Linked DNA regions of Homo sapiens. The protein of the gene in region 2 purifies or fractionates together with the protein of the main gene of each other region. This does not show direct contact. Each region holds a gene or a part of one and is shown on either strand. Other genes may lie near its edges.

Region 1 (3,810 bases), on a different chromosome or scaffold from region 2:
GCTAAAATATTAGGCTGCTGTAGCCCAGTTGATAAGAAGCCCAGAGTGAATGGCAGACACCAAGTGCAGCTGATACATGAGATTCCAGACCTAGATTTCACTGCAGCACGAGAGCCTCAAACTAAGCTTTGCTTTTTTTTTTCACTCTCTGGCTCTTGGAAGGAAAGAACAACTCATGCTGCTTTGGGGAATTCCACAAGGGTTCAGAATCAGCATACTAAAAAAGGACTTGGTCTCAGAATGCCGATTCCCTGAACTTAGGAAAGGGAAGGAGAAAAAGGACCTCTTGAATAAAGTCAAATACTTGGAATGGTTCATTTCTGCTGGTGGCTCTTTTTAATTCTGGAAGGGTTGCAATGGGCTTGTACACAGAGGGGTTCGGCCCCTGCACTCACGTGGTATCGTCCCAGCGCTGTAGACACTGGCTGTGGAAGCTGTGGTTACATAACGTTGTGAGGATGCCATTCACAGACTCGTCCATGCGCTCCAGACACACCGTGCACTTGGGGAGTTCAGTCAGGTCCATCACTGGGAGGCTGGCGCCCTACAGGAAACACCTCACATAAGCCTCACTCTTCATCTACCAGCAATACTTTATTTTTCCTTCTTTTTTCTGAGACAGGGTCTCGCTCTCTGTCACCCACGCTGGAGCCCAGTGGCGCAATCATGGCTCATTACAGCCTTGACCTCCCAGGCTCAAGAGATCTGCCCACCTCAGGCTCCCCAGTAGCTGGGACTACAGGCATGAGCCACTGTGCCAGGCCTTTCTTCTTTTAATAATAGTTTTCTAGTTGCTTTTTTGACTCCTGGCAGGATATCCTCAATATCATTACTCTAAGCAAGTAATTTAAATTGGTAATATTTTCATTCATTTATTCATTCATTCAAGAAACAGGGATGGAGTACCTCCTGTGTTCCAGCACTGTGCCAGGTACTGGGAGTACAGCGGTGAACAAAACAAAGATCTCTGCCCTTACAGAACTGACATTCCAGGAAGGGAGACTGCTGTCAAAACCTTAACATATAAATCTCAAATGTGACCAGACTCCTAGCTCAAGCTCTAAGTGTCTACGACTATAATAGAACACAAAGGAACAAAAGAATAGCTGGACCTGAAGGATTTTTCCATAGAGTAAGTTATAACTTAACACTTTCTACTCAGTGATGACAGCACCAACAACACTGATTTTTCTTTATTCCCTCATTGTACAGATAGAGATTGAGCCCCTGCTATGTGCAGCAGACAGACACTGTTCTAGGTGTGGAACAGTGGTGAGCAAAAACAGATACGTTAAGTCCAAAAAACAGTCAGCTCCTGCCCCCACAGAGTTTAGAATCTAGTGGAGGGAGAGACAAAAATCAAATTAAAAAGCAAACAGTACAGGAAGCCACAACAGGGTGTGAATTAGGGGGCATGACAGTCTAGATGGTCAGGAAAGGCATTCCTAAGACAGTGCTTGACTTGACGCTTCCAGCCAGAAGACGAGAAAGAATTACTTAGGCAAAGGTCAGGGAGCACACACTTATGGACAGAGAAAAAGCACATTAACCTACAGTCCCTGAAGAGTAGATACTTACAGGAAATCTCTCAAGAAGCCACGTTCATTTAAGAAAGGAATCTCTAAAACTGAGGCCTCGTGCAGCAGCCAGCACAAAGGATGCCCAATTTTATCACGTCAATTTTTTTTTGAGTTTGACAAATTTATCGGTATTTTAGTAAAGACATTCATCTCAGTTGTTTCTCTCTCCCAGCTTGACCTTAGGTTAATATTTCATTTGGGTCAAGAAAAGAATATCTAGGAGAGGTATGTTAACAAACAGGAAAATGGACAAAAATTGATAGTTTGCCTACATTAAAGTAAGTTAAATTCATGTATTTTGATATAATTAAATCATGTAAGAACTAAGAGTTCTATATACATTTCCATTGTTTTACTTGGGGCTCATTCTAAACTTAAATGCTAGTGAACAAGTGTTAGGAATATACACAGGATGCTTCTCTGGAGTTATTACCAACTAAAAGAGCTCAGCGAGCAGTTACCACCAATAAAACAGTCTGAAGCTGCCTCCAAATATAATATTGTAGGAGTTTTCAAGGAAATGTTTATACTGTATGCTTCTTTTGTCTGTGACTATGCTTTTAAAGATGTGTTTAACTGTCACATTAAAAAAGATGCCGGGCGGGGTGGCTCACGCCTGTTAAGTCCAGCACTTTGGGAGGCCGAGGCGGGTGGATCACAAGGTCAGGAGTTCAAGATCAGCCTGGCCAAGAGGGTGAAACCCTGTCTCCACTAAAAACACAAAAAATTAGCCGGGTGTGGTCGTGGGTGCCTGTAATCCCAGTTACTTGGGAGGATGAGGCAGAGAATTTCTTGAACCCAGGAGGTAGAGGATGCAGTGAGCTGAGATCACACCACTGCACTCCAGCCTGGGAGACAGAGTGAAACTCCGTCTCAAAAAAAAAAAAAAAAAAAAAAAGCTCATACACAATACAAAAATACAAAAACTAACACCCTACAATATACAAATCTCACAAAGTATATGTGGTGAGATTCCAAAAAAATGTTTGAAGATGCATTTTCTTTCCTTCTACTCCAGTATCTAAAATGTGCTTTTTGAGAGGCCATTGGTCAACATGTATACATTTAAAATCAACCATGTAATTTTACTAGTAAGAAAGCTGGGGCTGGCACGGTGGCTCACACCCGTAATCCCAGCACTTTGGGAGGCCAAGGCAGGCGGATCACGAGGTCAAGAGTTTGAGACCAGCCTGGCCAACGTGGTGAAACCCCATCTCTACTAAGAACACAAAAATTAGCTGGGCATGGTGGTGCATACCTGTAATCCCAGCTACTCAGGAGGCTGAGGCAGGAGAATCACTTGAACCTGGGAGGCATAGGCTGCAGTGAGCCGAGACTGCTCCAATGCACTCCAGCCTGGGCGACAGAGCAAGACTCCGTCTGGGTCGGGGCGGGGTGTGGGGGAAGCCAGTAGTTAAGTTCAATTTAAATTGGATTCACAAGTTAGTAATTTAAATCCTCAGACAAAGTTACAGAAAGTGTATCTTCTTGTTTTCCATCTTCATACAATGTTAATTTTTTTTTTTTTGGTGTTTATACTTTTTAAAAAAATAAAAATAGTCAAATGCTTAATATGTACATTTAATTTTTTGGTGGTGGTTTGTATTTTAAAAGAAACAGCTTCCTTATGATTTGGCTCAAGTTCTGGTGGAAATGCTTACAGCAACTAGCTAATAAACAAAAAACAAGAGAAGCACATTCGAAATACTGATTTACTTTGGTAGCAAATGGTTTTTCTTTGAAGACAAATGAAGATACACAAGACCCATTAAGGTGAAGTGGGCTATTTCAAATATTCAACAGTTTACATTAAAAAGAATTCTTTTTTTTTTTTTTTAATTTGTTTTTTTTGAGACAGAGTCTCGCTCTGTCGCCCAGGCTGGAGTGCAGTGGCACAATCTCGGCTCACTGCAAGCTCCGCCTCCCGGGTTCACGCCATTCTCCTGCCTCAGCCTCCCGAGTAGCTGGGACTACAGGTGCCCACCACAACGCCTAGCTAATTTTTTGTATTTTTAGTAGAGATGGGTTTTCACCATGTTAACCAAGATGGTCTCGATCTCCTGACCTCGTGATCCACCCTCAACCTCCCAAAGTGCTGGGATTACAGGCGTGAGCCACTGCGTCTGGCCAAAAAAAATTCTTTTAAGAGCTAAGCATCTGTATCCACTGATAGCAATGCAATACCTACTTTATGATGACTTGAAACAAAACAAATGCCTATAAGGAAAAA
Region 2 (3,810 bases):
TCTGGCTTTATTACATCGTTAGTAAGAACAGGATCCATGTCTGGTTTGTTTCTACTGCATAGACAGGTCTATTCCCACCCCGCTGCTGATGCACGCCCACGCCCTGCAGGGCTGGGTCTCCAGCCCTCCTGCCAGCATCTCCCCTCTCTGTTCAGAGTCCCTCTGACCTCCTCCTCCCCACCAGGCCAACCCCAGCAGCTGCAGAGTGAGCCACATGCCCTGGGTGAGTTCCCAAAACCACCTCCGACCACTGCCCACCATGCCCCGTGTGACCCCACGGTGCCCACCCCCTCACAAGCCACAGGAGTGGGGAAGGGGAAGGCTGCCCCACCTGCAGCACCGCCACCTCCAGCTTGGTGTCCATGGCAGCCAGGCCCGCCTGCCCTTGCTCCACAGCCATTTGGTGAAAGAAGCACCTCCACTTGGCCAGCACCTCTGAGAACTGCAGCTGCAAACGCAGGCCTGAATGCCATCTGCACACGCCCCTGCCCACCCCAGTCCCCCACACAGCCCCTGTGGCCAGCTCAGGCCTCTAAGGCATGGGCACCTGTGTTTTTGGTGGATGCCCACAGCTGCCCTGAGATCTCGCACAGCACCAGACTCTGCAGGTGGAAGGTTCTAGCACTTACCAGAAACTGGGGTCTCCCCAGTGCTGTGAGCTTAATGGCTATGAAGCCGTCATCGCTGACTCTACCTGTCAGAAGCCACAGGAAAAGCCATGACAGCCCTGAGAGGTGCATGGAGGCAGCGCAGGGTGCGACAGGGAGGGCCAGGGCCTGGCCAGCCCACAGCAGGCTCCTGACCCCACCCCACCCCGCCCATGAAGTCCTTGCACATGGCGCTCTAGAGGCCCTGTGGAGATGGGAGGGGGCTCCGTGGCGGGGTTTCTGTTTCCATGCAGGTGTGGGACAGCAGTGGGCACAGGAGCTGCCTGTCCCCTGCCAAGCAGCCCCCACAGGCTCCCTGCCTCGGTTTCCTTCCCTGTGCCACCAGCACCACAGGCTGCTCACACGTGGGTCACAGGACCCAGAAACACCGAGCGTGGCTAAGACAGAGACACCCCAGCGAGGTCCCCTTGCTCAGGCCTCTGCCCCAGAGACCGAGTCTCTCAGGAACCTCTGACGCAAGCGCAGGCTCCTGCCCCCGTGCAGCCAGCCCGCAGTCCCACCCTGTCCTCCAGGCCAGCCCTCCTGCAGCATTCTTGCCCCTGACACTTCTTTCCAAGCAACAACCAGAAATGTTCCTTTAAAGTGAAAGCAGATCTTACCATCTCATCTTGTTTCACGCCACCCCAATGCAGGGCCTTCCCCTTCCACCTGCCCTGGGAGAACAGGCAATGGACGAGGAGAAGACGCCCCTCACCCTGATGGCCCAGCATTCAGCTGGCCACTCTGACCCTCAGCCCCCATCAGGAGGCGGCTTCCAAGCACTGCTCAGAAGTGCCAGGTGCAGCGGCATGCACCTATAATCCCAGCACTTTGGGAGGCCAAAGTGTAAGGTTCGCTTGAGGCCAGGAGTTTGAGACCAGCCTGGGCAACATGGTGAAACACCATCTCTACAAAAAATATGAAAATTAGCTGGGTGTGGTAGTGTGTGCCTGTAATCCCAGCACTTTGGGAGGCCAAGGTGGAGGGATCACTTGAGCCCAGGAGTTCCAGGCCAACCAGGGCAACATAGTGAGACCTCATTTTTTTTTTTTTTTTTTGAGATGGAGTCTCACTCTGTCGCCCAGGCTGGAGTGCAGTGGCGCAATCTTGGCTCACTGCAACCTCCGCCTCCTGGATTCAAGTGATTCTCCTGTCTCAGCCTCCCAAGTAGCTGGGATTACAAGCGCCTGCTGCCACGCCCGGCTAATTTTTTGTATTTTAGTGGAGACGGAGTTTCACCATGTTGCCCAGGCTGGTCTTGAACTGAGCTCAGGCAATCCACCCGCCTTGGCCTCCCAAATTGCTGGGATTAGAGGCGTGAGCACTCCAGCCTGGGTGACAGAGCAAGATCCAGTCTCATTTGAAGCAAACAAACAAAAACATAAACAGGCCTGGGACCCGCTGCCCCTGACGGAGGGCTGCTGGGGCCAGCATGGGGCTGTGCAGGTCGGATGTTTCTAACACTGAAGGACATTGGGCCTTGCTGACCTCTGGCTTCTCTATCCCTGGAAACACCTGCTGCCCCCACCGCTGGCCCCCAGAGGCTGTGTCAGGGAAGGACAGAAGATGCGGCACCAGCTCCCTGAATGGAACCTCCACCCTGGGCTAAGTGTGGCTCGGCAGCTGACATGGACCAACTTCCTGCAGCTCCCGATCCTGGCCCTGAGCCAGGGAGAAGGGTGGGGGGCATGAGGCGGGATCAGGGAACAGGGAGCTGGGGCAGGAGAGGAGATGCCTTCTGGGAGGCAGTGGGGCCCCTCAGGAAGGGGCTGAACAGTGAGGGACCCAAGTGTGGTCAGAACCCAGCCCTCTGGCTCCTGCCCCAGCTTAGTGTTCACCCACCGGCACCTCCATGAGCCCAGGGGTCCGCTCAGGCTGGGACATGGCAGGGGTATAGCCAGCAAAGAGGGGGCCCCACCTGAGGCTTCGATGCAGCGCAAGAATGTCTCCATGTGGCTGTCGCACTTGGCCTCATTGGCGTAGAAGTAGGTGCGGGCACTGATGACACCATTCCTGCGGTCCCCGAAGGCCCAGTGGGCCTGGTATTGCTTGTCCCGCTTATTCGTGCCTGGAATAGCGAATGCACGGCCTGAGCACAGCTCCAAACACCCACCCCCAGCACCCACACACCAATAGCCCAGGGCCCCTGCCCTCAGGAGGGCTCCAAGCATAGTGGCCTTGCCAGCCTGGCCCTGGCACTGCACTGCCCCATGGTTCCCATCCCCAAGCCCACCCTCCTGTCTACACCGCGGCTCTTCCACCTGGAGTGCTGCATCCCCCTGGCTAAGCCTCCTCATGAGGCCAGGACGGCAGTCTCCTTAACAAAGGCCTAGGTCCACCAGGAGGCCATGAAAAAGGAGCAGGGCGTCTCCCCAGACACTTGCGAGTATGTCAGAGCCCAGAGCGACAGGGCAGGTGCCCTGGACATAGGGAGGAGCCCGGGCTCCGACGTCACCCCAAGGCCCACTTGTGCCCCAGCCTAGACTCTCCTGAGCCACCAAGGGGTGTGCGGAGTCGGGAGGGAGTCTGTTCCTGCGCGGCAGCCTCTCACTCACCACTGCCATCCCTCTCCGCAGCTGAGGTGCAGGACCTGTGGGAAGGAGGGGGAGAGCAAAGGTCAGGGTCACGCCACCTGAGCCTCAGGTGACAGGCACGTTCCCACTGAGGCTGCACGGAGGGCCCCACCACAACCCCGGTGGAGGGTAGATTCCAAGGTGCAGCCCCAGCCCCACCCCTAGCCTGGGGTGGAACACTTGGGCCTGGGAGGGGCAGCAGTTTATGGGGCTGCTGTGTCCCAAGGGCTCAGGAAGCCCGGGGCTCCTTGTGGGTGGAGAAATCAGAACGATATTCCTGAGCTCTCAGAACAGCCCAGGGCTTGCAGCAGGTTCTCAAATAAAGGTAGTTACCTGGTTCCAAGACAGAGCCAGTCAGGGCTGAGAGGAACGGAGGCGGGAAGGCACCAGCACACAGAGGTCCCCAAATCCCCAGCGAGGCCCCCTTACTCAGGCCTCCACCCCAGAGCCAGGGTCTCCCAGGCAGCTCTGATGCAAGCACAGGCTCCTGCCCCCGCACAGCCAGCCCTGCAGTCCCGCCCTGTCCTCCAGGCCGGCCCTCCTGTAGCATTCTTGCCCCGACACTTCTTTTCCAAGCAACAACCAGAAAT

The links.
Region 1: the proteins of PRODH (region 2) and BRAP purify together in Homo sapiens (affinity purification with mass spectrometry; 2 studies listed by BioGRID and IntAct, with this or other methods). This does not show direct contact.

Annotation. Positions count from the first base shown.
Region 1 is NC_000012.12:111,665,244-111,669,053, forward strand, and holds part of BRAP (BRCA1-associated protein), read right to left. Parts: exon of another isoform or gene 3,715-3,810; intron 3,397-3,714; exon of another isoform or gene 2,992-3,396; intron 2,685-2,991; exon of another isoform or gene 2,477-2,684; intron 2,173-2,476; exon of another isoform or gene 1,688-2,172; intron 545-1,687; coding exon 396-544; intron 1-395. UniProt on the Homo sapiens protein: Negatively regulates MAP kinase activation by limiting the formation of Raf/MEK complexes probably by inactivation of the KSR1 scaffold protein.
Region 2 is NC_000022.11:18,922,486-18,926,295, forward strand, and holds part of PRODH (proline dehydrogenase 1, mitochondrial isoform 1 precursor), read right to left. Parts: intron 3,238-3,810; coding exon 3,203-3,237; intron 2,716-3,202; coding exon 2,566-2,715; intron 695-2,565; coding exon 630-694; intron 449-629; coding exon 332-448; intron 1-331. UniProt on the Homo sapiens protein: Converts proline to delta-1-pyrroline-5-carboxylate.